6 separate regions of the Homo sapiens genome follow, and regions 1, 3, 4, 5 and 6 are each linked to region 2. The links come from fine-mapping of genetic effects on gene expression. A gene starts in region 2. Each other region holds a variant in brackets. All regions are shown on one strand. Distances are from middle to middle.

Evidence for each region. PIP is the estimated chance that this variant, and not a neighbour inherited with it, causes the effect.
Region 1: its variant is fine-mapped to the expression of SNX18 in whole blood (TOPMed, PIP above 0.99).
Region 3: its variant is fine-mapped to the expression of SNX18 in whole blood (TOPMed, PIP above 0.99).
Region 4: its variant is fine-mapped to the expression of SNX18 in whole blood (INTERVAL, PIP above 0.99).
Region 5: its variant is fine-mapped to the expression of SNX18 in whole blood (TOPMed, PIP 0.99).
Region 6: its variant is fine-mapped to the expression of SNX18 in esophagus mucosa (GTEx, PIP above 0.99).

The regions. Positions count from the first base shown.
Region 1 is chr5:54,592,392-54,597,289 of GRCh38, reverse strand. It overlaps a transcript of SNX18 not described here. Among named protein-coding and RNA genes, the nearest start is that of SNX18, 77 kb to the right of the region's middle. The variant G/A (reference allele first, on the strand shown) is at 2,693.
Region 2 is chr5:54,515,881-54,520,778 of GRCh38, reverse strand. SNX18 (sorting nexin 18) reads right to left here and starts at 3,020. Exons shown (of 2, transcript NM_001102575.2): 1 at 1,206-3,020. The coding sequence starts at 2,826. RefSeq lists an enhancer at 1,168-2,112 and silencers at 2,585-3,144, 3,025-3,266.
Region 3 is chr5:54,643,870-54,648,767 of GRCh38, reverse strand. It overlaps a transcript of SNX18 not described here. Among named protein-coding and RNA genes, the nearest start is that of LINC02998, 98 kb to the left of the region's middle. The variant T/C (reference allele first, on the strand shown) is at 2,193.
Region 4 is chr5:54,493,276-54,498,173 of GRCh38, reverse strand. No RefSeq gene overlaps it. Among named protein-coding and RNA genes, the nearest start is that of SNX18, 22 kb to the left of the region's middle. The variant C/T (reference allele first, on the strand shown) is at 2,924.
Region 5 is chr5:54,583,437-54,588,334 of GRCh38, reverse strand. It overlaps a transcript of SNX18 not described here. Among named protein-coding and RNA genes, the nearest start is that of SNX18, 68 kb to the right of the region's middle. The variant T/AT (reference allele first, on the strand shown) is at 2,677.
Region 6 is chr5:54,635,420-54,640,317 of GRCh38, reverse strand. It overlaps a transcript of SNX18 not described here. Among named protein-coding and RNA genes, the nearest start is that of LINC02998, 110 kb to the left of the region's middle. RefSeq lists an enhancer at 232-806. The variant G/A (reference allele first, on the strand shown) is at 2,428.

The sequences.
Region 1 (4,898 bases), 77 kb before region 2:
CACTATTATTGTGTGGGAGTCTGAGTTTCTTTGTAGGTCTCTAAGAACTTGTTTTATGAATCTGGGTGCTCCTGTATTGGGTGCATATATATTTAGGATAGTTAGCTCCGCTTTACCAATATGTAATGCCCTTCTTTGTCTCTTTTGATCTTTGTTGATTTAAAGTCTATTTTGTCAGAAACTAGGATTGCAACCCCTGCTTTTTGCTGTTTCCCATTTGCTTGGTAAATTTTCTTCCATCCTTTTATTTTGAGTCAATGTGTGCCCTTGCATGTGAGATGGGTCTCTTGAATATAACACACCGCTGGATTTTGACTCTTTATCCAGCTTGCCACTTCGTGTCAGTACATCCTTTTTTGATCCACTCATCTGCATCTGGTCGAGAGACCTCTCTGGTCACCAGTCCCAGATACTAACCAATACCCAAGTACACACTGCCCAGGGAACCAATGTAAGAAAGGGAGGGGAAAGGGGCACATCCATTCCTACTGCAGGTTCCCTCATTCTGATGGCTGCAATGCTGTAAAAATCTATAGAGAGGATAGAGTAGGTGCTATCTGTCTCATGGACAGATAAGAAAATTGAGATCTAAGCAGAATGTGACTTGCTAAGGGTACAGAACAGCCAGTTGGTGGCTGTGGAAGGTCATAGAATCTAGGTCATCTAACCCCTAAAGTGGAACATGCTGCTACAGATGGCCTCTGCTGCTATGGTACCAGAGCTAGCAATGAGTATGAACTTCACTTCTTCATTTATTAATCATCTAGTTGATGTATTGGAGAAGAGTGCTTTCCTTCTTGTCCCAAAGTGGGCATGCAGCAACCAAATTAGCAAAGCAGGCGAATGCTGAACAAATGCCCAATGTAGATGAAGGCCTTTTTAAAAGCCTCAGCCTCTCCTAGGCCCCTTTTCCTCCATCAGGATGCTCTCATTATTCCCAAAGAGTCTGTTTTGGTAGAGATGGTGGGGAGAGCTATAGTGCTGGCCCTCAGACGGGAGGACACCACCATAAGCTCATTTGTGTTATATTATACAATTCCTTTTTCAAATAACATCATAAGAAAAGCGTTATACTCTACACATAATTTTATCCGCTTTGTCACAGATATTTGCATTTTAAAAGGGGAAGACCAAGACTCTGGAATGGTTCTCTCCAGTAGCAATGCTGTTGGCATTATCTGGAAATGACAAGGGACTCTGGAGATCAGAGGTCTTTCCAGCTGGTGGTTGACACCCACTCTGACCACAAGGCCAGCCTAGTAGCCAAGAAGAGATTTGGGAGGGAGGAAAGGGCCAGAGGGATCCCAAGGCTTTCCTTATAAATGAAACACAGGGGAGAGACAGGCACAGAGAAAAGGAGGAGGAAATGTGACTATGGAGACAGAGATAGGAATGATGCAGTCACATGCCTGGGAAACCACCAGAAGTTGGAAGAGGCAAGGAATGGAATCTCTCCTAAAGCCTCTGAAGGGAGTTCAGCCCTACCAATATCTTTATTTCAGACTTTTGGCCTCCAAAATTGTGAGAGAATAAATCTGTTTTAAGCCACCTAGTTTGTGACAATTTGTTACAGCAGCCCTAAGACACCAATACAACGTGTGTCCCATTGGAATGGTTATTATTAAAAAGTCAAAAAAACAACAGGTGCTGGTGAGGCTGCAGAGAGAAGGGAATGTTATACACTGTCAGTGGGAATGTAAATTAGTTTAGCCACTGTGGAAAGTAGTTTGGAGATTTCTGAAAGAACTTAAAGCAGGCTAGGCGCGGTGGCTCACACCTATAATCCCAGCACTTTGGGAGGCTGAGGCGGGTGGATCATGAGGTCAGGAGTTGGAGACCAGCCTGGCCAATATGGTGAAACCCTGTCTCTACTAAAAATACAAAAAATTAGCTGGGCATGGTGGCGCGTGCCTGTAGTCCCAGCTGCTCAGGAGGCTGAGGCAGGAGAATCTCTTGAACCTGAGAGGCAGAGGTTACAGTGAGCTGAGATTGTGCCACTGCACTCTAGCCTGAGTGACAGAGCGAGACTCCATCTCAAAAAATAAAAATAAATTAATTAAATTAAAGCAGAGCTATCATTCAGCCTAGCAATCCCATTACTGGGTATATACCCAAAAGAAAACAAATTGTTTAATCAAAAAAGACACATATATTTGTATGTTTATTGTAGCACTATTCATAATAGCAAAGACATGGAATCAACCTAGGTGCCCATCAACAGTGGATTAAATGAAGAAAATGTAGTATATATACACCACAGAATACTACACAAACATAAAGAATGAAATAATGTCCTTTGCAGCAACATAGATGCATCTGGAGGCCATTATCCTAAGTGAATTAATGCAGGAAAAGAAAACCAAATACTGCATGTGCTCATTTATAAGACGGAGCTAAACATTGGGTATTCATGGACATAAAGATGGCAACAATAGACACTAGGGATTACTAGAAGGAGAGGGAGGGAGAAGGGTGAGAGTTAAAAACTATTGAGTATTATGCTCACTACCTGGGTGATAGGATCAATCGTACCCCAAAACTTAGCATCACGTAATACCCCTGAATCTAAAATAGAAGTTGAAATTGTATTTTTAAAATACAATTTGGGTGAATTTTCTCCCCAGAGAGCCCATTAAAGACTCAGTCTCAAGGTTTTAACTGGGGGCTATTTACATAGGCACCTTTGCCTAAC[G/A]TGTACCAAAATTCCAGAACTTCCAGAAGGAAAGCAGATGTTTAGCATAAAGCACATTATTTGCATAAACAGTCTAGACACAGCAAACCACCCTCATAAGTTAGAGAACAGTGAGAAGACTCCAAAAATCCAAGTTCCCAGACACCATCCAAGAGCCAACCTTCCAAGCAGGCCTTTCTAAGAATAGCAACCTCAGATTGGCTGTGTTAACTCTTTTCTGCACATAAGGGTACAGTCTCATGAGTTTTGACAAATGCATATGGTCACACAATCAGCACCACAAGGCATATTTTCCAAAAGTTTCCTTATGTCCCTTTGCAGTTAGACACTTGCCCTGGCTCCATGCAAAGACTGATCTGCTTTCTAACACTAAAGTTTTGCTTTTTCTAAAATTTCATACAAATGAAATAATATAGCCTGTAATCTTTTGCATTTGGCATCTTTCACTTAGTATTGTGCTTTTGAGATTACCATATTGTTGCATGTATCAGCAGTTTATTCCTTGGTAATGCTGAGTAGGGTTGCTTTGTATGAACATGAAACAATTTACTTATCATTTATTTTTATGGCTCTTTTATGGCAATTATCTGTTTTATAGCTCATGCCTCTGTTGCCTCTCTAGGAAATGTTTGTCTACCCAAGATCACAAGGATTTCTTATCTTTTCTTTAAGTTTTATAGTTTTAACTCTTATCATTAGGTCTATGATCCATTTCAAGTTGAGTTTTCCATAATAGATGAAGACTGAAATTCATTTTTTTCCTATGTAGATATCCAATTGTTTCTACACCATTTGTTGAGAGGACTATACCTTCCCCATGGAATTACCTTAGCACCTCTGTCAAAATCAGTTAGCAATATATGAATGGGCCCAGGTTAAGAATAGTTTTTTCAGTAGTCTATATGTCTATCCTTTCACCAACACCACACTCTGTGGATTACTGTAGCTTTAAGTCTAGAAATCGGGTCATATAAGTGTTCCAAGTTCGTTCATCTTTCTCAAATTTGTTTTGGCTCTTCCAGGTTCTTTGTATTTTCATATACACTTTAGAACATGATCATCAATTTCTACAAAAAATACTGCTGAGATTTTGACAGGTAATGAGTTGGATCTATAGATCATTTTGTGGATAATTAATGTCTTAACAATATTCAATCTTCAATCTTCCAATCTATGAACATGGTATATCTGTCAATTTATTAAGGCCCAGACTCTATTCTTAACTTGCTGTAGTTTCTCCCCACTCCAATCTCCAGGATCAGTCAAGAAAGACTTTTTACTTTTATTTTTACTTTTGAGCCCCATTAGGTTCTGAAGGAAAGATTTCTTATACAGTGAGTTACAGGAAAATATATTAATGATTTAATGTAAATTAAAATGTCTACAATTAAAATTCCTTCCAGAGAAAATTGCAACTTTCACTTACCTATATTCCTGAAGGTAGATCCCTTAGAATTTTTTTCATAGAGCAGCCGACTATCAATAATATATTTGTGGGGCCAGGCATAGTGGCTCATGCCTGTAATCCCAGTACTTTGGGAGGCTGAGGCGTGTGGATCACATGAGGTCAGGGGTTTGAGACCAGCCTGGCCAACATGATGAAACCCGGTCTCTACTAAAAATACAAAAATTAGCAAGGTGTGGTGGCACACGCCTATAATCCCAGCTACTTGGGAGGCTGAGGCATGAGAATCGCTTGAACCTGGGAGGTGGAGGTTGCAGTGAGCTGAGATTGCTCCACTGCACTCCAGCCTAGATGACAGAGTGAGACTCCATCTCAAAAACAAAAACAGAATTGTGATTTTTCTAGGGTAAGGACTCAGCAAGAGGCAGAAATGAGAACAAACCCACGTCATTATCATCTTACATTGAAAATCCACTGCTCTCCTATGTTGGCAAGTGTAGAACATTTATCCAAAGGCAAAGCTCAGTCTCCCTATGTTATTCATGCATTGCCCTGTTACAGTCAAGCCAATTGTGGGAGACAGTGTCAGTGTCCTCGGATTGAATTGTTGACTGACCACAAGTTAATTTAGTCATGTTTTGTTCATTAAGCTTCACGATCATCATCTCAGTAATTTTACCAGTGAAAGTGTCCGTGGGTCCAGAGCTAACCAGTGCCAGGCAACCATTGAGAATTAGATCTGTCTTGCACATTCAGGGAAGCCATGTGTCCACAAATGGAGAGCAATTTGTTGTCCATGGG
Region 2 (4,898 bases):
TCACGCATTTGGAAGGGGAAGGAGAGAAGCAGAGAGGAAGGAAGCGAGACTGCTGTCTCCAAATGTCTGAAGGCGGTCCCAGGGAACAGAAAGACAATCAAGGGAGGCAAACTTCAGTTCAATACAAGAAAAGACATGCCAGAGATCAGGGTTGCTCATAAACGGACTGGCCCACCAGAAAGGCAGTGAGCACTTCACCAGTAAAGGCCAGACCCGCTGAGGAAACAGGGACAGTAGGTTTCCCTGCTCAGGAGTAGGTTTCCCTGCCCAGCCGCCCCTACACTGGACTTTCACAGGCAAGACTGCCTCCCTAACTCCCACACCTCCCCATTCTCTCAATCAAGGCATTATATGAGAATGCACATTAGTAAGAAATGTTAAGACAAGCACTACTGCTATATATTTTTTTAATTTGCAAATTCTGGTGCTTTAGCAAAGGTCAGAGACACTAACAACTATTAATAACTCATGAACTCTGATAGTTGGACAGCTAACTCACTGGGATACCAGCAACGCTGCTCTCAGATCCAATACTCAGATTATATTCATTCTATGTAGTTTCCCTAAACAATTTTCCTAAACAACGTTCTCAATTTCAGTACATTAATAGATTTCAAACTCAAAATGAGTACGCTTTTCCTGAAATTACTTCACTTCGTAAAGGTTGCAGGCAAGAATTCTTTGCAGGAATTTCTTAAACTCAGAGAATTGATCTTAATTCCTCTACCAAAGCAGAGATTGAGAGGTGTGGAAGGGTGAAAGCAGATTTCTATTTACAGACATCCGTTCTTCTCCATTATTTCCTCACTTTTTGAAACTCACCACTAAGTGACAGTGCAGTGTTCAAACAGATACCTAACATGGTTTAGGTCCCCTTCTAATTCTACCCTCGTCTCAAGATTACAGATTTGAGCAGCTCATTACTCAACTATTCAAACTCTAAAATGATAGCACTGTCATCAAAGGTACTCTTTGAACCTTCGAGAAAGAGTACTCATTCCCTAATGCAAGATACTCGAGGAGGAAGCTGCCTGTCGAGCAATCCAACTTACACTCTAGGGAAAAGACCCAGGCGTCCACGTCTCTGCTCGCTTCCTCACCTGTAGAATATGATTCTGAAACCCACAGTGGTACTGCTGTCAAAGTCGCCCCTTTCAGCCTGCACAATACACTCCATATCACCTGCTCTAAGGGCCAGGCTTTACCTTTCTGAACGTGGATGATGTCCGGGAAGTTAGCCAGATGCCCCTGATACAGCGCTAATAGGTCCATGACGGGATCCAGGTCCTGCCTGGGCTGCTCCGCGAAGAGCTCGCCAATGGCGTCATAGGCATCTCCGGTGAAGGCGATAGCCTGGTTCAGGCCCACCGAGAAGGCCTGCTGGTCCAGCTCAAAGGCCTGGCTGAGGCCGCGGAAGGACTGGCCCACCTTCTGATACTCCTTTTTGAAGCCGGTCACCTGCTTGCGCGCGAACTCGTTGGCCGTGTGGTTGAGCTGCAGCGCGCTGTCGTCCATCTTCTTGGTGAAGCACTTGAAGCCGTCGATCTTGCTCTCCACCTCCTGCAGGTCAAGGGCAGCGGCGGGGGGCGTGCTAAGGGTCAGGAAGAAGTTGGCGCCCACCATCTCGTCCTTCTCGGCCTTCCTCTTGCCCTGCTTCCAGGCTTTCTCGTCGGTGCTGCTGGGGCACGTCAGGAAGTGCTGGAAGACGTCGCACTGCGCCAGCACTGGGTGGCTGGCCATGTGGTTCATCCACCAGATCAGGCCCTTCCTGCGCTTAGAGATGAAGTCCTCCTCGAAGCGGCCGGTGGCCTGCTTCTCGGGCAGGTGGGGCACGGAGATGACCGGGAACTTCTCCGCCAGGCGCGCGTACAGCCAGTCGAAGTGCTTGTAGCGCCGATGCACCGGCACCTGCGTGTGCGTGGGCACCAGCTTGTAGGAGATGTAGCTCTTCATGCCCTTGAACTTGGTCTGCTTGGTGGGGTCGTCGATGGTGCACTGGAACGGGTAGGGGTTCTCCTGCCACTCGGGGCCATAGGGCCCCAGCACCACGCACAGCTTGTCCCCGTCCTTCACGAAGCCTGACGCCTCCCCCAGCACGAAGGCCTCCCCGCCGGACTTGACGAAGGTGGAGAAGCGATTGAGGTTGCGGCTCACGGTGGCCGAGCTCTTGGGCCCCGACGGGTGGTGCTGCGGGGGGACCGAGCCGCCGCGGGAACCCAGGGACAGGTCGGAGCGCGTGGACAGGCGGTAGCGGCCGGCTGCGCCCACACCCGCCGAAGACGAGCCGTCGAGGTCCGGGTATGCTCCGCTGCCCAGAGCGCCCGGCTCGTCCGCCACCGTGGAGCTGTCGTCCCACTCGTCGTCCCAGTCATCATCGCTGCCTTGGCTGGCCTGGTAGCCGCCGTAGAGCTGCTGAGGCGACGGCTGCAGGGCGCCCCCGCCGTACGGGAAGCCCGCGCCGGGCGGCTGGAAGGTGCTCGGAGGCGGCGCCTGCTGTGGCTGCAGCAGCGCCTGGAAGGCGTCAGGCGGCGGCTTGAAGGAGGCGGGGGGCGCGACAGGCAGGGGCTCGAAGCCCCCGGGGGGCACATTGGCGTAGCGGGCCGGGGCGCCCGGGCCGCCGTCTCCCGCCGGGCCAGGCTCGGGGGCGCGGATCACCTGCACATAGGAGGCCGGGAAGAGGCCGCGGTCGCCGCGGCTGTTGACCCCCTCGAGCCAGCCCTCGATGTCCTGCTCGCTGCACAGGCTCAGCACCTCGTGCTCTCGCAGCGAGATCTCTCCTGGGTTCTCCGACCTGAAGTCGTACAGCGCCCGGGCGCGCAGCGCCATGGTCCCGGCGCCCCGACTGGCGGTCCCGACTCCCGGCGTCCCGAGCCGAGGCCCACCTGAGGGGCCCGCGGTACTGCTCGAGCCCTGGCGCGCGGACTGGAGCCCCGAAGGCGGCAAACCCACGCTGCCCGGACCAGCCGGTCGCGCCCTCCGCGCGGCTCCGCTCGCAGCGCCTCCACTTCGCAGCGCCGACTGCCGCGCTGGGCCGCCGCAGCCGCCGCCGGTCGGGGGCGGGGCCCGCGGCCTCCCACGTCTCCAGCTGCGCTAATCCACGGCCGAGAGCCCCTTGCCAGGCGAGAGCAAGCGATGGCCGAGCCGCCGAGCCCACCGCCCGCGTCGGCTTTGCGGCGGCCACTGCCCTCTAGTGGCCGGTGCCGCGAAGCCGGGCGCCGTAGTGAGCGCGGCTGAAGGAGGTTTCTACTCCGAAGTGAATTATCTGAGATTTCTTTAGGCTTTTAAGTTAAACATTCTCTAGAAAGTAAGTTAGCATTTGCATGCCTGATAAACGTTCCCACTCTGAGCGCTCAGTGAATGCTCCTAGAATGGCAACCCAGTCATGTAATAAAGCATTTTGCAATGCGAATTAGTGATTGCACTAAGAAAACAGGATGCCTCTGCGGAGGAGCTGTTCACCTACAGAGCAGGCTCCCTTCCCTCTTCTGCTCAAGGAGAGGAGATTGGCAAGAACAAAGTAAGGGCCAGGGAAGGTGCTGTGATTGACAAAATTAGAAGCAAAGGATCATGTAGAGAGGGAGGAGCTGGAGAGTTTCCAGTACAATAAATGCTCACACATTTATTACATGCATGTGTCGCCTATCCTCCCATAGATATATGTAGTGCGGTGAATGAGAGCTCAAACTTCGGAGCCAGGCTTCTGAATTTCAATCTGTGTTCTGACACTACCTAGCTGTATGACCTGGAACAAGGCACTTATATCGTACCTACCTCCGGGGGTTGTTGTGGGGATTCCATCATAAAGTAATCCCTATTTTACAGATGAGGAAAGTGAAACAATATCTGGCAGGGTAAGCAGATTTGAAGGGTTTGTTGCTGCTTTTGCTGCTGTTACTGTTATTTGGGGGAAGCAAAATCCCTGGCCTCTTTCACAAAGGGAATAGGGGTACTAAACTAACAATTGCAGGGTACATGCACCAGGAAGCGTCCCAATGTTCACATTGCCACTCCTAGTAAGAGGTCAGTGACCATCCATCCATCTGTTGTCTCTATGTCTCACTATATTTATATTATTTTTAAGATAAATAGAACAAAAATCACTTCCTGAAATAATCAGCTCCAATCTATCGTTGCCTTGTTTCCTATCTTCCTTTCCTTCAGTGTATAATTTGCCCAAAGCTTTTTCTTCTCTTAATCCCCTCTTATTAAGTCTAGCCTAATTATTCCTTTGAAGACACTTCTAATTGAGGTTCTGCATTCATGTGTCATTAATTTCAGCCTGTCCTCTGACCCTTTTCAAGGAAACCTGGGAAACGGGCCAGAAGAGTGTACAATTATTCTAAGGGCTGTGGTATTGTAAGCATCTTGCACAAAAACACAAACCCACTATACCAGAATCACTCCCACAGTGTTTATCCTAATGCAAAACCTTAATTCAATTCAGTAAGCATATTCTAAATTACATTTTTAGCTGAAAATTCTGGGTTTTGACTATTCTCACAGTAAGCAACAGGGATCATTGAATTTCAATGCCAACATTTCATGTGGTCAGAAACATGAAGTCCACATTAACTAAACCTCTAGAATATGACTCATTTTACTTCTGAAAAGCTAACCTAGAATATGTAAGATAAATAAATTTAGTTTCGCCCCTTCTGTTCGTTTAGTAGTTACTTTTTAGATTAGAGTTAAGTACAGTAACTTTGGGCTTATTTCAGGTGTGAAAATTCCAGGAGTTTAAGGTGATGATTTTTTACAGACTGGTTGAGCTACTCTGTAGAAATGGTGGTTGAGGAATTATTGGGTGTCCAAGGTTGTTTGTAGCACTGGGGCATGGGCGTCTGCAGGTGCTTACTTTGTAGGAGTCCAGTGGGAGGCCTCTGTGCTTGCCGCGCATC
Region 3 (4,898 bases), 130 kb before region 2:
TCGGCTCTCTGTAAAACAGACCAATCAGCTCTCTGTAAAGTGGACCAATCAGCAGGATGTGGGTGGGGCCAGATAAGAGACCAAACGCAGGCTGCCCGAGCCAGCAGTGACAACCCGTCACCTTCCATACTGTGGAAGCTTTGTTCTTTCGCTCTGCAATAAATTTTGCTGGTGCTCACTCTTTGGGTCCACATTCCCCTTATGAGCTGTAACACTCACAGGGAAGGTCTGCAGCTTCACTCCTGAAGCCAGCGAGACCATGAACCCACCCGGAGGAATGAACAACTCCAGACTCTCCGACTTAAGAGCTGTAACACTCACCGGGAAGGTCTGCAGCTTCACTCCTGAGCTTGCGAGACCAGGAATCCACCAGAAGGAAGAAACTCTGAACACATCCGAATATCAGAAGGAACAAACTCTGGACACGACGCCTTTAAGAACTGTAACATGTAATCCCAGCACTTTGGGAGGCCAAGGCGGGTGGATCACGAGGTCAGGATATCGAGACCATCCTGGCTAACACGGTAAAACCCTGTCTCTACTAAAAATACAAAAAATTAGCTGGGCACGGTGGCGGGGGCCTGTAATCTCAGCTACTTGGGAGGCTGAGGCAGGAGAATGGCATGAACCCAGGAGGCGGAGCTTGCAGTGAGCCGAGATAGGGCCACTGCAGTCCGGCCTGGTCTAAAGAGCGAGACTCCGTCTTTTTTTTTTTTTTTTTAAAAAAACTGTAATACTCTTCGCGAGGGTCCGTGGTTTCATTTTTGAAGTCAGTGAGACCAAGAACCCACCAATTCCGCACACACCAGCATTCCTTCGGGTTCCTAAATAATAAACTGGGAACCATTCACCCTTGACATCTCCATCTCCTTAATCTTCCAGAATCCGGTCAGTCTCCAAGTTCTGCAGATCCTACTCCTTTCACTTCTCTCAAATCTGTTCTCAACTCTTCATCCCTGTTGCCCGTTGAAGTTTCAAGCCTTCATTTTTCTGGTCTATTGCAATGATCTGCTACTTAGCCTTCCCCTGTTTTCAACCCCTGCTGTTCAATTTGCTGTCATGAAGACAAGTAAATATCACTCATTTTCTGGGAATCTCCTCAATATTGCCCCCACAGCCTTCAGGATGATGACTTTGATTCTTGGATTGGAATACAGGGTTCTCTACGATCATGCCTCTGCCTACCTCCCCTTCCTCTCATGCCCCATTCACTACCAACTTCAACTGCTTATAGTTCCCAAACCATGCCAGGCTATGTAATATCTCTTTGCCTTTGCTCCACAGTCCTCTTTCCAGAATGCTCTGTTCTTTCCTCTCCTCTAGGTGAACACCTCTATACTTTTCAAAACTGAGATCAAGCATCACTCGTTAAAGAAAACTCTCCTGGGTCAGGTGTGGTGGTTCATGCCTATAATTCCAGCACTTTGGGAGGCCAAGGCGGAAAGATTGCTTGATGAGATGAGACAGAGATTTGAATTTATAGCCCAGTAAGGGCAATACGATCTTTTTCCTGCGTTTTAACTGTTGCACTCGGCATAGTACTCGGCATGTATTTGGCACTTAGTAAATGATTATTGAATAAATACAGATGTAAATGATGGTCTAATTCAGAACACTATATTGTTAAATATCCTGAATATATTTATTTAAGGCGTAGTTTGCAAACAAGCCATGTATTAGAACATCAGAATTTCACATGTGACAAAGCACGATCTGGTTCAGTGAGCCAAGTTGGTAATCTCCAGCCGATGACGAATTGCTCTTGAGACACTTGTTACAGGCAGCCTCAGGAAGAGGCACAGGCCATTTATACCGCTTCGAGCCGCCAGTCCCAGCTCTCTTGGAGAAAGGCAGCACAGCTGGGAGGGCTCACAACAGGAGGCCTGTTGAAAACAAGTCGTGGTTTCACCCTGTGTTTTGATTTCTGTTCAGGGAAGGGCACTTCCTCTTGCATTTGTAGGAGCCAAGTAACACATTCTGGGTGGAGGGAACTATGGTAGAAAGCCTAGTGTTGGACACATGAAAAGGTGGCAGCATCTTAGAACTGGCTAAACACATATCTTGGCATAAGAACTTGGGTGGCAGGCAACCAAGATTTGGGGAGTGCTTTTCCTGCATCATTTTCTGCTGGGATTGCAATATGAGGGAGGCCTTGTTGATGGGTGTAGTTTGTTATGGTTGGCAATACCTTC[T/C]GGTTAGTAGTGGTTGAGTGCTTGCTAACTTGTGAATTCTTCAGAAGAGAGTAGAATATAAAAAGCCTTCAAGCCTCTCCTGTCTCCCCCGCAATGCGGCTAACGCAGGGCAACCGGCAGCAGTGAGCTGTGGATCCAGGCACTGGCTAGAGAAGTTGACAGACCACGAACACGGGGCAAGCTGAGTCTTTCTGTTTCACTTCCGGCATGTTTTTCACCCACAGGGATATTTTGGTCTGTTTCAAAGAAGAGGAAATCAGCCCCTAGCAGAGTGTTTCAGAAAAGCAGCAGAAGAAAAGAAAAAAGATTAAAGCCATATCTCTTGGGGAGAGAGATAAAAATCTGGATTTTGTTTGAAACAATGTTTCCATTTCCAACACCTCAGGTCCATAAAAAGTAGGAGAAAAAAAGTCTTCTTGGGGTTTCAGCATGCACAGTGCATTTATTCTCTCTCTCATTTCTTAATTTGTCAGTTTCTTTCGCCAAGTACCAAATCCAGTAAATGTTCTTTAAATGGAAAGAAAAAAGCAATAATGAATGCCAGAAAAGTTTCCCAACCAGCCGGCCAAACCACAAGTATCCAAAAATGTGATTTCATTTTTAATAATACAGAAAACTGAGGAATATCAAGTAGAAATATAAAGAGAGGAAAAACATTGACTTATTCTAAACACCAATAAAAAGGATTTCCAACTTCAGAATGTTTGTAGAAGACATGAAGAGAAATAGCTAGTCAATGAAGGAATTCAGAACCCGGTGTTCACAAAATTAAGAAGATACTAGTGATCAATGAACTCTAAACACTCATATGGGTTTGCCTTCTCTGAATCCTTTGAAATTCACTCTCTATTCGGTGTCCAAATTTCCTGTATATGTAAAATGGAGCCAAGGAGCCCACATTGTGAACAGAGAAAGTAAAGATCGTGTAGGATGAAGACATTCGTGTTGTAACCTGTGTCTTTTATGCCAACTCTTAGAATTTAAGGAGCAGCTGGGGAGGCCAGCAGGCTGACTTAAGCCCACAAAGGATGGCCTCTGATCCCTGAAACTGGGGGAAGAAGCAAGATAATTCTTAACTACTCAGGTGACATCTCTTCCAAGAAGTTTTCTCTAACTTACTCCCTAGCCCAGGAGGGAAGGCTTAGACCCCTCATCTGTTTTCCCGGAACACCTGGGCATAGCTCTTATTGCATCCAAACGGTTCTTATAATGCAATGCAACACAATACACAGTATCTATATGTCTCCCTTGTTAGACCATGGAGTCTAGAGCAGGGATATCTTTACTTCTCTGGTGCCAGGTATAGTGGCTGGAACATCAATTACCTAATTGACATGAATGCTTTCTTTCTTTGTATCCAAATAACTCAGGGCATTTTAGTTGTTTTATCCTATGGTTATATCATTCTTACCATGTTTTAGTACCGGCAAATAGAATTCATTATTTCCCAGGATATATCAGTTAATAATTTCATAAACAGAGAAACTAACTACATCTGGAGCAGTGCTTCCCAAACTTTACTGTGCATGCAAATCACCTGTGGATCTTGCTACAAAGCCGATCGTCACTCATTTGGCCTGGGAAGGGGCCTGAGAAGCTGCCTTTCTAACAAGCTCCCAAGTGCTGCCAATGCTCTTGGTCCATAAAGTAAGAGTGGCTTGAGCCAGATAGAGTTTAATTTTGTTTCCTGAAAGTTAAGTCCAGAGATTAGCAGTCCAGAGCTTGTTTGGCAGTTCTGCCACATCATCATCAGCCCAGGCTCTTCTATCTTTCTGCTTTACTATCCTAGGTTCTGTTTACCCCAAGGTCTCCCCTTGTCCCAAGATAGCAGCTGCTACTCTAGCCATCACACCTATATTGTAGTCAGTAGAGAGGAGGACACACCAGGGCAAATGGCTGACAGCTGGGTCAGCCCCTTCTAAAGGAGTTGTCAGGAGGAGCCCATCTGACAACTTTCACTCCTATCTCACTGGCCAAAATGTAGTCACCTATCTAAAGGAAGGCTTGAAATGTGATTTTCCTGTTGGGAATATGTTGCTGATTACAACGAATTGAGTTTCTCTTAGGAAGAGGGGGAATGAATGCTGGGTAGATGCCAGCAATCTCTACTATGAGTCAGATGAGATTGTTGTGGATCACCTGTTACTCACCCGTGGTTAGTAACCTCTGGATTGTGCCCCATTCCTGAAGAGACACCAGTTACTCTGTTAAGGTCCATGCGAAACATCAGCTGTCTTTGTGACAAGTTCTGTCTCATAGGCTCCTTGACTGTACTTACTGACTAAAGCTATCATCACTCTTGGCTGTGAAACTTGAAGTAAGATGAGGGGACCAGAACTTCCTACCCTCGCTGCTGCCTCTTTGGAATAACATTAATTGTCAGAGCTTAGTTTGGCCCAGGCCTTATTTGCATCCTTGGGCTCTCGGATGCCAGGGAAACATGGCTACTGTGACAACAGATGAGATCCTGGCTCAAGGATGCTGGCAGGGTCTCTAGCTTATTGTCCCTAAGGTTATGGCTTATAAATAAGGGAATGAGTCCAAAGAGATGTGCTGTTCTTCTTGCTTGGTGCCAATCAGTTCATTCCTTGAGTAACAGTGGAGTCACCCAAAGTGAAGAAACAATTCCAGCCCACTGATTTCGGCCTGAGCACTCACGTTTTTTCCCTGGCTCTTTGCCCAGGATTTCCAGGGAGAAGGCAGGGG
Region 4 (4,898 bases), 23 kb after region 2:
AAACTAAGTTTCTCCTGATGTTAGTTTGGCCTACACCCACGAATAAACAAGGACAGCTTGGAGGTTAGAAGCAAGATGGAGTTAGTTAGGTCAGATCTCTTTTACTGTCTCAGTTATAATTTTGCAACAGCAGTTTCAGTATGACAAGATGACCAGGAAAAGCACCATAAACAAAGGTAAGTTCTGCTATGCAGATTTAAGTCAATGCCTTCTCCATTGATTAAGAGTCTAGTGATCTAGTGTCCTCCTCTTCCTGGTGTAGACAGGGACACAGTCTCACAAATGGAGATTTCTTTGATAGATGTAAATTTCTCTCACACAGGATAACTTTTCAGAGCCTCTACTGTGTCTACAATTTCTCAAAATAACAGCTCAAAATAATCCTTATGTTAAAGAGACATATTTTGGCCTGGCATATTCTGGTCTCCTAAAGTCATATTTTGGCGTGACTTGTCCTGGACCCAATTAATAGAGTGTTCTCATTTTTTATAGCAACATAATATCCCATTATGTGGACATACTGAGGGAGCACAGGGAATTTCACCCCAAAATATGGCTCACTGCAGCCTGAACTCCTGGGCCCAAGCAGTTCTCCTGTTACAGCAGGCAGATACCTAGACATGAGCAGGAGGGGGAGCCTGAAGAAAGGGAGGTCTGGAAAATCTCACACCTCAGAGACCACTGGAAATCTGCATGCTAGATATGAGCATAAAGGAGGGAAAATACCTGTGCACGAAGAAACACCTCAGAACAACTCTTAAGATGCCCAGTAATCACTCACGCTGCAGCTAATCGGTCAGAATGGAGCTAGCCACATGCTGATAAGGAGGGGATGGCTGGGCACAGTGGATCACGCCTGTAATCCCAGAACTTTGGGAGGCCGAGGTGGGTGGATCACCTGAGTTCAGGAGTTCAAGACCAGCCTGGCCAACATGGTGAAACCCTGTCTCTACTAAAAATGCAAAAATTAGCTGGGCATGGTGGCAAGTGCCTGTAATTCCAGCTACTCAGGAGGTTGAGGCAGGTCAATGGCTTGAGCCTGGGAGGCAGAGGTTGCAGTGAGCCGAGATCATGCCACTGCACTCCAGCCTGCACAATTGAGACTCTGTCTCAAAAAAAAAAAAAAGGGCAAAGGGGAAATTTCTAAGAGTCTGAGAGATATGCAGGGGTAATATGTACACATATAACTGCTATATGACCTTCCTAGAGGGCAACGCTAGAGGGTAATAAGCAAAGCTGCCATTAGGATTGTACCCAACACCAGTCCTTGCATGTGCCTTAACTACCAGTAAAGGAGAATCCCATAAACCTAGAGCAGGAACTAGGCAGGAAAAAAGCAGGGACTTAATGCAGAAGGGGGAAGCTAGATAAAGATAGAGGTGGAGACTTGAGACAGAGGTGGGAACTTAAAGAAACAGTCCCAACATAACAAAAATCTCAATGCAGAACCCTAGGGGCTGCTGGCTCATTCTCTTTCCAGCAGCCCACTCTGACTTTTCTTTCAGAGCATACTATCTCTTTAAACAGACTGCTACTACTACTGCTCCCAGCAGGGTCAGCCCACTCCTCTCTTGGAGCATATTCTTATTTCCTTAATATGTCTTTGTTTACTTTACTAATTGGTCTCTTGGCCAAATTTCTTCTCCCAAGAAGACTAAGAACAGAGGACTCCACACATCCTGGTAACACTCCCACCTCAGCCTCCCAGCTGGCTTGGACTACAGGTGTGCACCACCATGCCTGGCTAATTAAAAAAAAAAAAAAAAATTGTGGCCAGGCATGGTGGCTCACACCTGTAATCCCAGCACTCTGGGAGGCCGAGGCAGGTGGATCACATGAGGTCAGGAGTTCGAGACCACCCTGGCTAACATGGTAAAACACCGTCTCTACTAAAAATACAAAAATTAGCTGGGCGTGGTGGCGCATGCCTGTAATCCTAGCTGCTTGGGAGGTTGAGGCAGGAGAATCGCTTGAACCCAGGAGGTGACGGTTGCAGTAAGCTGAGATCTCACCACTGCACTCCAGTCTGGGAAACAGAGCGAGACATTGTCTCAAAAAAAAAAAAATTTTGTGTAGAGATGGGGGTCATGCCATGTTGCCAGGCTGGTCTCCAGTTGATCTTCCTGCCTCAGCATTCCAGAGTGCTGGGATTACAGGCATGAGCCACCATGTCCCATGCTGATCAAAATTTTTAAATGAGTTGGAATTAGTCAAAAACAGGATTGGTATTCCAGGTAGGAAGAGCATCAAAGACACAAAAAATGTTAAATGCCATGGTGGATATTAGGAAATACAAGAAATAAGTAATATTACAGTGTAAAACAACACAAGGTGAGATGTAGAAGGAATTAAGGCAAAAACATGTGTAAGGAAATTGGACTGTATGAGGATGAAAGGTGTTTGAAATGAGAGAAATGACAAGCTCAGGCAGTAGTAAGACATCATAGAATGGTGGCCAGCATGATGCTAGAAGCTACTTCAGGGAACTACTGGATTGACACATGATAAAGATAGACAATGGCAGTTGGGAGGTCAAGAAAAGGGCAGAAGAACAATGCTTAGAAGGTAAAACTGGCAAGCCTTGATGCAAAGGTATGAAGAGGAGGAGGTCGGGATGGATGAATGGTGACTGTAACAAGTAGAGAATTCAGGTGGGGAACAAGTTTTGGGGAAAGGAGGAGAAGCTTGACTTTCAAGAAGATTATTTTGAGTTACATACCCTTCACTACTACACCCCTGTAAGGGAAAAAATCAAAGGCACTATGCTATTCCAACTTTACTACTTGAGTTGGCTGATGGGAGTATTGGTTTCTTATTTGGCAAATGGTAGAGCTTGAATGTGAATCCAGCTTTTTAAATGCCAGAACCAGCCATCATTCCACTATGTATGCTGCTGTCAAAATAAGCACTGCTCATAAAATAA[C/T]ATAAGTGAAAACAAGCACAGCTGGCTAAAATGAGGTGGCAAATGTCAAGAGAGAATGATTAATAGAGGAAGTATGCTAGAGATAGGTGGACTGGGATCCCATATGTAGCAGAATCATGGGGTTTGGATCCAGCTAACCCAAATTTAGAGAGTACAAATGGAAAATGCTAATTTTTAAAGATTATGCACACTTTAAGTCACCCCCTACTCCATCTGTTGAGAAAGGTAATCTACTGTGAGCCCTGAACAGCCCTATACATTCTTGCTGGGTATGCTAGAGAGACTTTCTTGCTGGCTTTGAAGATAGGAACTGCCATGTTGTGAGAGGGTCATGTGGCAAGGAACTGTGGGTGGCTTCTAGGAGCTGATGGCAGCCCCAAACAACAAGCCAGCAAGGGCAGGGCACAGTGGCTCATGCCTGTTAGCCCAGCACTTTGGGAGGCTGAGGTGGGAGGATCACTCAAGAGCAGGAGCCAGCCTGGGCAACACAGTGAGAGCTGTCTTTACAAAAAGTACAAAAATTAGCAGCAAGAAAGTCTCTCTAGTTACTTTAGACAGTCTTCTATAATGAAATTGATCAAGGGAATGATATCCTGTTTGGAAAAATCTCTCAAGCCAAACTCCTCTACTCATATCAACACAATAAACACAGAAGACTTCTATGACCCCGAAATATGTGGGGATTTCTCTCCACCAGCAAGTAAACAATAGATTCTGCAGTGGACACCAGCTGAGTGTCCTCCAATTCAGTTCTGACATTGTCTACCTGGAGATTGTGTCAGATCCCACAGGTTGAGGGCTCAGTCCCACCAATCGCCAGTCCAAGTGTCTGGAACTTCTGGCTGACCAGATTTAAGTTGGGGTTCCCACAACCCCCTCTTTGGTTTCAATTAATTTTCTTTTTCTTTTTTTTTTTTTTTAAGATGGAGCCTCGCACTGTCACCCAGGCTGGAGTGCAGTGGCCCGACCTCAGCTCACTTCAACCTCCGCCTCCCAGGTTCAAGCGATTCTCCTGCCTCAGCCTCCCAAGTAGCAGGGATTGCAGGGGCATACTACCATGCCCAGCTACTTTTTGTATTTTTATTAGAGAGGGGATTGCACAATGTTGGCCAGGCTGGTCCCTAATGCCTAACTTCAGGTTATCCATCCACCTTGGCCTCCCAAAGTGCTGGGATTACAGTCGTGAGCCACTGAGTCCAGCAGGATTCAATTAATTTTCTAGAGTGGCTCACGGAACTCGGGGAAACACTTACTTGCATTTACTCATTTATTATAAAGGATATTACAAAGGATATAGATGAAGTGTGTAGGGCAAGGTATAGGGGAAGGGGTACAAAGCTTGAAGGCCGTCTCCAGGTATACCACCCTCCAGGAACCTCCACGTGGTCACCTCTTCAGAAGCTCTCTGAACCCTGTCCTCTTGTGTGTGGTGGAGTTGTTGGCGGGGAACGGTTGTGGGGTTGTTTTTTGAGACAGGGTCTCACTCTGTCACCAAGGCTGGAGTGCAGTGGTACAACTATGGCTCACTGCAACCTCGACCTCCTGGGCTTAAGCAATCCTCCCACCTCAGCCTCCCAAGTAGTTAGGACTTACAGGAGCCCGCCACCAACATCTGGCTATTTTTTGGTAATTTTTGTAGGACCAGGTTCCACCTGTTGCCTAGGCTGGTCTTGAACTCCTGGGCTTAAGCGATTCACCTGCCTTGGCCTCCTAAAATGCTGGGATTACAGGCATGAGCCACCGTGCCCGGCCCTCTTGTGTTTTAAAAGAGAATTCATTACATAGGCATGATTGACAACAGTGCAGAAATGTGATTGGACGAAAAGGGTATGACTGCATACAAATAGGCTGAGCGGGGAAACCCAGTAAGACCCACTGTTGAGATTCTTCCTGGCCTCTGTGCAGCATTGCTTCCTTCAGAGTATGGGGCACGCTTTCTGGAATGAGGGTCTTTTGACTTGCCTTGGACAGGTGA
Region 5 (4,898 bases), 68 kb before region 2:
AAAAAAAAAAAAAAAAAAAAAAAAAAAAGAATAGAAATAACAGTATTTTTTCTTTCAATGTATTTGAATTATTTTTTTTTCAAATGACTTCTAAGTTGTTAGGACATAGCAAATTGCTTAGATACAACTGCCTAGAAACAGAATTTTTAGGCATTCTTTTGGCCTAGAGTCAATATGAAAAAATTATGGCGACACTATACTATGAAACGAGAGTGTTTGGGAACTTCTGCCACTGAGTACTGGTGTCAGAAATCCAGATTTCCTTGATTGGGTTGCTTGGATTCCCTAGAAGATTGGCTTCTTCCGCAACTTGTCCTCCTTCTATGAAAGGAGAAAGGGCAAAAGGGGTGTACACCTTCCTCTCATGGACACAACCTGGCAGATGGCCTCATCACATTCGTTCACAATCCATTGTCCAGGATGTCATCTTATGCCCACATCTAACTGCAAGGGAAGCACAGACAGTCACACTGTATCCTTGATGGCCACGTGCCTTAAAAAATATTGGGGATTTTGGTGCTGTGCACAAAAGTGAAAGAATGGAAATAGGTGACCACTTGTAGTCTCTACCACAGACCATCTGAATTGAAAGCAATGGTGCTGTACCCCTCCACTCTTAATGAATGGTGGTGTTTTCAACATCATATTAACTGCCAAGTGAACTAAAGAAGAGCAGCAGGCTCTGAGAGCATTGCAGGGTTCAGTAGAAGGGATTGGAACACTGGCAGCACCAACAATGAGTGCATGCCGTGTGCAGGTGCAAGTAATTGGGCACCACGGAGAGAAAGGACATTAAGGAGTTTTTTGCTTTTGGAAGTTATTGACAAGTTTTTAGTCTATAGAGATGAAAACATTAATTCACCTTTGGAGCACAGTCCTTTATTCTGGTAAGAGCAATTCTCTTTTCCAGCAGAAGACGCAATAGATTATGTCTTTGCCTTGGCCAGGGACTATTATTTATATACTGTTGATGTATATAGTACTTAATAGGATATAAATAACCACTTGTTTACAGAAAACCACTTGTTTACATACCAACCTGTTTATAACCTTTTGTTTACATACCAACTTTTACGTAAGGACAATTCCCTTCTTTTTTTGAGATACAAAATTATTAAAAGATATTGGATGGACTAGGGTACTCAAAATAAGACTTGAATGGATTCTCAGATTTAAATAATTTGCCATGAGATTAGAGGTTCACTGTTGAGCTGGCTGTTCCCCAAAAGCTGAATATCCCAGGGGAATATCTGTTCAGACCTGTGAGGCTTTAACTCTGCCATCAGGAGTTTGGAGTAATAGACTTCCTCCCTAAAAGAGGGGCTGCTCAGGAAAAAAAAAAAAAAAGGAAATAAATTCCCATTAACCTTACAGAGTGCTCACCTCTTTCTCCAGCAAGGGTTCCTTCCTCTGCTGTATTTGTGAGACATATCTATATTTATATACAAATGCCTGTTCATGAGTCAGGCCACTCTCCTCTGTATCATGGGCTCCTTCCATCCTTGGCTTGCCCTGACTTTGCTGCTGGCTTCATAGCAGGGTGACATGGAGCAAGCTATGATCCTACTATGTATGGTCTGAATGTCTCCTCTAAAACTCATGTTGAAATTCAATTGCCATTGTGATAGTATTAAGAGGTAGGACCTTTAAGAAGTGATTAGGCCATAAGGGCTCCGCGCTCATGAATGGATTAATGCTGTTATTAATGGGTTAGTTATCACAGAAGTGGGGTTTTCATTAAACAATGAGTTCAGCTTGATTTAATCCGTGTCTTGCACGCTCATATTCCTTCTGCCCCTCTGTCATGGGGTGACCCTTGCCAGATGCCAGTGCCATGTTCTTGGACTTTCCAGCCTCTAGAACCATGAGTCAAATCAACATTTTTTTTTCTTTTTAAATTACCTACTCTGCAGTATTCTCTTATAGCAGCAGAAAATGGACTAATATAGCCCCCATGGCCAGCTCTGCTCTGTCCCTCATTTCCCCACGGCATCATCACGCCAGGCTGCAGATGTAAATAGTTGCTAGTGAAGGACTTGGTGGCTAGAGGATATAATACACAGGAGAAAAACTTAAAACCTGGCACTAAATTGGGCCATTTCCAGAGTCCAAGGTAAAGGAAAACAAAATTTACATAATTCACACCCAATCCCTAATTCTGCTTCCTGTCTTGAGGGCCATTCTTCTCCATTTTTCCCTTAGGAAGGTTTACCTTTAGGAAAAACCCACCTTCTTTCCACAGGGGTTAGACTTCCCTTGGCCTGTGGAAATATACAGCTGTGTGTTACTGACAGTGTTGCTGGGGAAGGAGTATTTTTTTTTTTTTTTTTGAGACGGAGTCTCGCTCCGTCGCCCAGGCTGGAGTGCAGTGGCACGATCTCAGCTCACTGCAAGCTCCGCCTCCCAGGTTCATGCCATTCTCCTGCCTCAGCCTTCCTAGTAGCTGGGACTACAGGCACCCGCCACCATGTACAGCTATTTTTTTTTGTATTTTTAGTAGAGACGGGGTTTCACCATGTTAGCCAGGATGGTCTCGATCTCCTGACCTCGTGATCCGCCCGCCTCGGCCTCCCAAAGTGCTGGGATTACAGGCGTGAGCCACCGCGCCCGGCCGGGGAAGGAGTATTTAAGCCACCTCTGTTGGAAGGCGCTTCATCAGCCAGGGCTCTTTTTTTA[T/AT]CCTCCTGCTACAGTCACCACCTTACTGTACAATTTGCTCTCACTCTGACTCCATCCTACCAATCCACACAAGCTGGGCCCAGCAAATCAGTCACACTGGTCATCTAACTCAGGGGAAGTCCCATGTCCCTTCATTCAAGATCGCAGAAGTCAGTGTGACAGAAGACCAGCAGGCTGGAACCAGGCCTCTGTGACTCTCAACCCACCCCACCCACCCAATTCAAAAGGCTGCTTTATAAGTATAACCATGGATTCTTCCTGCTGCATGATTCTGTGTTGCCAATTCCTCCTCGTAAGCAGAAAGCAGGGAGTTTGTCGGGATATGTACATTGTGATATTACTCTGTTTTTTTTTTTTTTTTCTTTTTGGGACAGAGTCTCACTCTGTCACCCAGGCTGGAGTGCAGGAGCATGGTAACAACTCACTGCAGCCTTGAACTCCCAAGCTCAAGCAATCTTCCCACCTCAGCCTCCTGAGTAGTGGGGACTACAGGTGCATGCCACTAGGCCTGGCTGACTTAAAAATTTATTGTAGAGATGGGATCTTGCTATGTTGCCCTGGCTGGTCTCAAACTCCTGGACTCAAATGATCCTCCTGCCTCAGCCTCCCAAAGTGCTGGGATTACAGGCGTGAGCCATCATGCCTGGCCTGTGATCCTACCTTTTGACCTTCTGTTTACATTTTAACCACAGAGTGAGTGGCAAACACGTCGGCCACATAGTTAAAATACGTGTGTTGGCCAACCAGCATGGCCTGTCTGTCCAGGAGATTCAGTCTAGGATAACACTGAGGCATTTCCACAGGACAGCTCGGAAGAGGTCTTGGTACTCCAGGTTTGGTCTTCTTCCAAGACCAGCCATCTGTGTGAGGCAAAGCTATGCCTCCTCATTCTTCTGGTGGTCAAGGATTGCAATACACACACAAACCCCAATCTTAAGGAAAATAAACATTGTGCCTAAATGCCATGTAATCTATAATTATTCCCCTACCTGCATTTAAGCAAGATAGAGACAAATGGTTGTTGTTGTTGTTCATATTTTTTTGTATTCAGAACCATCTCCCATAGGCCTTCAGTGCATAGACACCTGGCTTGTCATTATTAATCTTTTCGAACAACAAGGCCACACTCCACCTATGCAAATACCTGATTGAAACGTTTTTACCTTAGGCCAGATCACACTTTTAGCTGAAGTGTCCTCCCCATTAGTCTCCATAAGCACATTGGGGGTAATATATGAATTTATTATTGCTTTTAACCCAAAGTAAACCCAAGCAGCCATGGGAAGTTCTATTAAAAAGCTACACACTGGTGCCTGGACGCAGTGGCTCACACCTGTAACCCTAGCACTTTTGGAGGCTGAGGCACGCGGACTGCCTGAGCTCAGGAGTTTGAGACCAGCCTGCAACATGGTGAAACCCATCTCTACTAAAATATAAAAAATTAACCAGATGTGCTGGCACATGCCTGTAGTCCCAGCTACTTGAGAGGCTGAGGCAGAATAATTGCTTGAACCCAGGAAGCGGAGGTTACAATGAGCTGAGATTGTGCCACTGCACTCCAGCCTGGGCAACACAGCAAGACTCCGTCTCAAAAAAAAAAAAAAAAAAAAAAGAGCTACACACTGGCAACCCAGAAACAGCCTCCCTCCTGGCCTGAGGAGCCACTGCAAGGCAGTCAGTGTCAAGGGCTCTGCTGTGGCTCGCCAAGCTGCAGCAGGTGTAGCAGCACCATCAGGCTCTGGCAGCAATGTCATTACAGCAGAGGGCATCTGGGGAGCCTGGAACACCCGGCAGGGTGAGAAGATCTAGGACTGACCCTTGAGACCAAATAAGCACTTCTGGGTATCCAGGCTGGACCCTGGAAGGGGGTCCACAAAGAAGGGACAGGATTATGAATTTCCTAATCTGGGAAAATTACATTACTTACATACCCAGCTGGGGAAGTGGGGCATATGGTTCTACATATCTTATTTTATTTCTCCAAAACATGCTAAGTGGTAGGTACTATTTTGATCTTCATTTTATACATAAGGAAGCTAAGCATTGGTAAAATAACTTGTCCAATGCCACACGACTAATAGGTGGGAAAAGTAAAATCTGGGCCCAGGTTTGCTGACCCCAAGGCCTTTGTTCTTAACCAGAATGTCCACTGCCACTCGTGGCTGTCAATAACAAGTGACTGACTTTATCATGACACAGCTTCTCCAGATAGCAAGGCCTGG
Region 6 (4,898 bases), 120 kb before region 2:
CGCTTGAGCCTGGGAGATGGAGGTTGCAGTGAGCCGAGATAGAGCTACCGCACTCCAGTCTGGGTGATGAGAGTGAAACCTTGTCTTACAAAAGAAAAAAAAAAAAAGAATCTATTTCTAGACAGTGATGAACTTTATTCCCCCATGTCATGGTCCTTGTAGCTTAAGGAGGTATTTGAGGTTAGGCTTCTCTGACCCTTTGCCCATTCTGCCAGGGGATAAGATATTGGACACCACACTGAAGTTAGATGTTGAAAATTGAGGTCCATAATCCCCGTATGTTCAGTCTCATTCACTTATCAAAGAATATTTCTAACTGGATCCCCAACAGAATCCTTACAATGGAGTGCCATCTCCATTGGCCTCAGGAACTGATGATTCTTTTAGTCCTTTCCTTATAGTGCGTGGGCCCACAGCTTACTTTCACTCATTGCCCACCTGGCTTTTGCTGATACATAATGCCCTTGCATAACCTCCTTGGTCAGCCTAATCACTTAACCCCAGGAGGCCCCTTCAGAAAATCTGCAAATCGCTTCTCTGAGTACGCTTGAGCGTAGCTTATTCAGGCCTAGATAAGCTTTGTTTCTTCAAGACAAAGCTTGTCCCTTTTGCTTCCAGCATAGACTCAGGCCATAGGACCCAAGTCTGAATTTTGGGTGCGTAACTTACTTTGAGCAAGTTACTATTTCTGGTCCTCAAGATTCTCGTGAAAAATAAAGATTAAAAATAGTCCTTACCTCCTAGCATTGTTTGAGAGTTAAATGAGTGAGGGCATTTTATACATTTAGACTATACTTGGCATATAATCAGCTATCAATAAATATTAGATAATATTATTTTGGCAAGAACTGGAAGTGACATTGGCTTTACCAAGTTCATTTGTCCATCTGTTCATTTGAAATGTATTTACTGATCCCCTATGATATGCCAGCTATTGTGATCAGCCACAATTAAGAATAGCCACTCCATACATTCTACAAATACATGTATGGATTCTAATGCATTGCTTTTTCTGAAAAATTTTTTTTTAAAACATGATACACCTTCAAAAAAACTGGAATTTTAAAATGCTCATGTCCCTAGATTGCTGGTTATAAACTATAAGTTCTCTGATTGGGAGAGCATTCGGTGGCCTACCCACTGTTACCTCTGAAGGCAAATTTTTACTGTCAGCCTCAAAAGGACTAAGTTAGGAAACTCATGGCAGAACATTAAAATGTTTATTTCTAATGAAGTTTTCAATATGTAGACATGATTTTTATCCACATTTGTATTCCTCTCTATTGAGATAAATCCAATCTAAAGTGAGGCCTATAGAATGAATAAAAAGTAAATAATATTTTAAAAGAGACCTTATGTCTGAGCAGAATTACTGCTCTAGTAGCTGGCCCATGGAGTGGAGGTGGGAAGGGTCCCACCTCAGGCCTTCAAAGGATGATGTTATGAGGTCTTGAGGTCGGGCCCTGGAGGGGTGTGGCCAGGGCTCAGATCCAGCTTCTACCATTTCTCCTGGCTGACCTTAGGCAAGCGGGTGGCTCAACTCTCTCTATGCTTGTTTTCTTTATCTATACAGGTAGATAATAAAAATACATATCTTGTAAGATTGTTATGAGGCTAAAATGAAGTGATACATGTAAAATATTTGTACATATGCAATAAATATTAGCAGTCAGTGCCAGTCATTGGTCTATATTTTTTCCTCATGAGCCATCCTTTTAGATACCAATACCCTATGTCAGGAAATGACAAATAAAAAACAAACAACAAAGAAGATACCAAGCCCTCTTAAAATAAAAATTCTTCACCAAAAAATTTTTTTAAATGTAATCTGCTATTATTCAGCTGTCTCAAGTTTCATTTAAAGATGAGGCATAGTGTGACATCCATTTTATAGATACAAAAACTAAGGATCCAAGAATGGTTCTCTAAGTTTATAAAACTCAGAGGTGTCAGAAAAACATAGCATACGCTCAGGATATCTGTCTCCAAGTCCCTCCCCCTTTTTATTTTTTAGCTTCACATATCTGTGGACTGGGGTTGGGGGGAAGATCACTATCTTTCAAAAACCACAGATTCTCAGAAAGTACCATTAACTATATCTAAAAATGCACCGTGGCAGCTATTTTTAAGTTATTAAAGTCAACATACTATCTATGCAGCAGCCATTGTTAAAGAAAGCTTCATGTAGAGTTAGAATATAAATGGGGAATGAATTCCAAAAGGAATGATGGGAGCCCGCACCTTGGTGACTACTGAACAATTACATGAGTTTTGTACAGAGATTTTGAAATTGGAGAAAATGTTCTCTCTCTCTCTCTCTCTCTCTCTCTCCAGTCCAGCAGTTTGAGTTTGAAAGCTGGGTGAAGTCTTGGAGAAGCTGGAGAGCAGCCCGGGTTTCCTGCTGCGTGAAGGCGAAAGCCTAGAGCT[G/A]GTTGGAACAAGCCTCTCTACTCTGACTTAGGTTTGCTCTTCTGGAAAGCTGTGAAAGAGAAGCCGTTTGCAAGGTCATGTAGAGTATGGCCCCTCCAGAGGGCCCGGCACCATCCCAGGCATTTCACACATCTCACCCCACGGAGTTGTTATGCAGGGGATTACCAAGAGGCCATTTTGACACAACTGTTTTAACACAGAGCTTAAAAAATAAATTATCAGGTAATGTCAACTGCCCTGTTTTGACCCTCACACCACTCTGGCGTGTCTCCTCAATTATCATTTTTGTTGAAACCTGTTACCTAGTATGTACTATTTTTATTATCTTTTCTAGCGCCCCTCTTTCCACTCCCTGTCCCTGAACCTAGCCTACCCCACCCCACCACCACTTCATTCCTCCTTGTTGGTACCAGCTGGCAAAATCTATATTATTAGAAAATTTCTTTGATAAAATTGACACTAATAAAATATCTGAAAATCCACTTTTCTCACGCCAAAGGATATTTGATGAAAATGAATTATGGTAACAGTTATTCAAAATGTACAAAAGGTTGAAAGATAATATTTTATTTATGATTAATTCATAAGAAAATTATAGGAGATTTATTTCAGATATTTGGAAGTAGTTCTGTGTTTGTATTCCTTTTTCAGGTGCAAAGTCGCAAAATTCTTCTCTCCATTCTGATACATTTAAGCACTTTTATGATGGCTCTCCCCTTTACATGTTCTGCTTGTATTCTTGGTCTTTTCAAGACTGAACAAATAAAATTCATTTACCAATTGTCACACATCCACTGTTCCACACTGAACTAGAATTTGCATTTGTCAATGTGCAAACTTTGACCAAGTTGTCTATTTGGCTATTGCCTCATTAGTCTCTTAAACTTTATATTTAAGGTAAAAAAATAACATATTTGATGAAGTCCTCACCATTTGACTTGAGGACACATGTGGAGATGGCATAGTGGTTAAGAAAGAATACAGGCAAACTGGTTTTGAATCCTGGCCCCATCCACTTTCACTGTAAAGTAATATTAGGAAATTCATTTAACTTCTTTGTGCTGCAACACACTGTGAGGAGTAAGTGAGTTCTAAAGTGCTTAATATCTGTGCCAGGTATTCTTTCAAGTGTTATATGCATGTTAGCAATTATTTTTACTAATTTAAAATTGGGTGCATTTTCTGTTTAGATGAACATTCCACTTAGCAGTAATAAGCAGTTTTCTTTTTTCCTTACTCATTTTTGATGCAACTCTAGGAATAGAAATTGTAGTTGTGGAAAGAGGCAGGTTTGGGGCAAAAAGCAGAGTAGGGGCTGGGGAAAGGTATAGAGGTTGAGCATGGCTCAGGCATGAACAACGTACAGGTTTACTGGGTAGTTTTGCAAAAGTGCTATTAAAAGAGAACAGAAGAGATGAGGTGATGTTTCCGTTATGCATACAACTCAATTTTTTTTTTCACTGAAGATTTTATTGCTTGATTTTTCTCCCCATAGCAAAATGCTCCAGAGATAAAAAAAAAAGTTGCACCAGGAAGACTTCATCAAAATGTCATGTGCTTCATTGTTTAAGCAGGTAAAGTATTGTTGGGTTGTGAAAATGAAAAAGTGATATCAGTAGACTTAGAGGGCCTCATCCCCGTTCAGGCCCACTTCTGAATGGGCCTGATGGGGAAAGGGAAGGAGAAGAGTGGATGCCCCTGACTGAGCATCATGGAAAGCTTCAGAAGCTTAGGAAGGCTAGAGTCTAGCATCTCTTAGACCAGAACAAAGACGTGAGTGGGCCCAGAGGATTGGAGCACCCAGCTAAGCCTTTCTCCTAAGCTGGTGTTTGCCCCAGTCAGCCAGTGATGGGAAGCATTTAGCATCCCCATTGCCCCTCACCTCTTCCCACATCCATGGTAGGCAGAGCCAACACATCAAAACAGTCACTCCTGATGAGCTCAGGGAACATCTCAGGTTTCCACTGCACATGATGCTCTAGGTAGGTTTCCCCGTGAGTGTGGTCATCAGGACTGAATACATAATTTGTAGGGCCCAGTGCAAAAAGAAAATGTTGAAGCCAATGTTCAAAAAGTATTACAAATTTCAAGATGGCAGCAGCAGAGCATTAAATCAAGTGCGAGGCCCTCTGAGCATGGGGCCCTGTACACAGGTTGTACCTGAAGTCAGCCAACTCTCCCCATAGTTGGTATATGAGTACCTCGTCCTGAAAGATCTCTGCTGAGACCACAGCATCCACTACATATGCTACCTCCAGCCCATAGACGGCCATTATTTTCCATTCCTGAAATCAATGGGGCAATTGATTGACCTGCTGGGACCAACATGATGAGGTCACTTTAATAAAATAAAACAAGGCAAACAGCAAGAAGAAAAAAATGCCAGGAAATGCACCAGGGAAAATGGTGCCACTCCTTAAAGCCTGGAGCAGAAGAAGATCAGAGGCACTGATTTTACAGGGAAACATGGA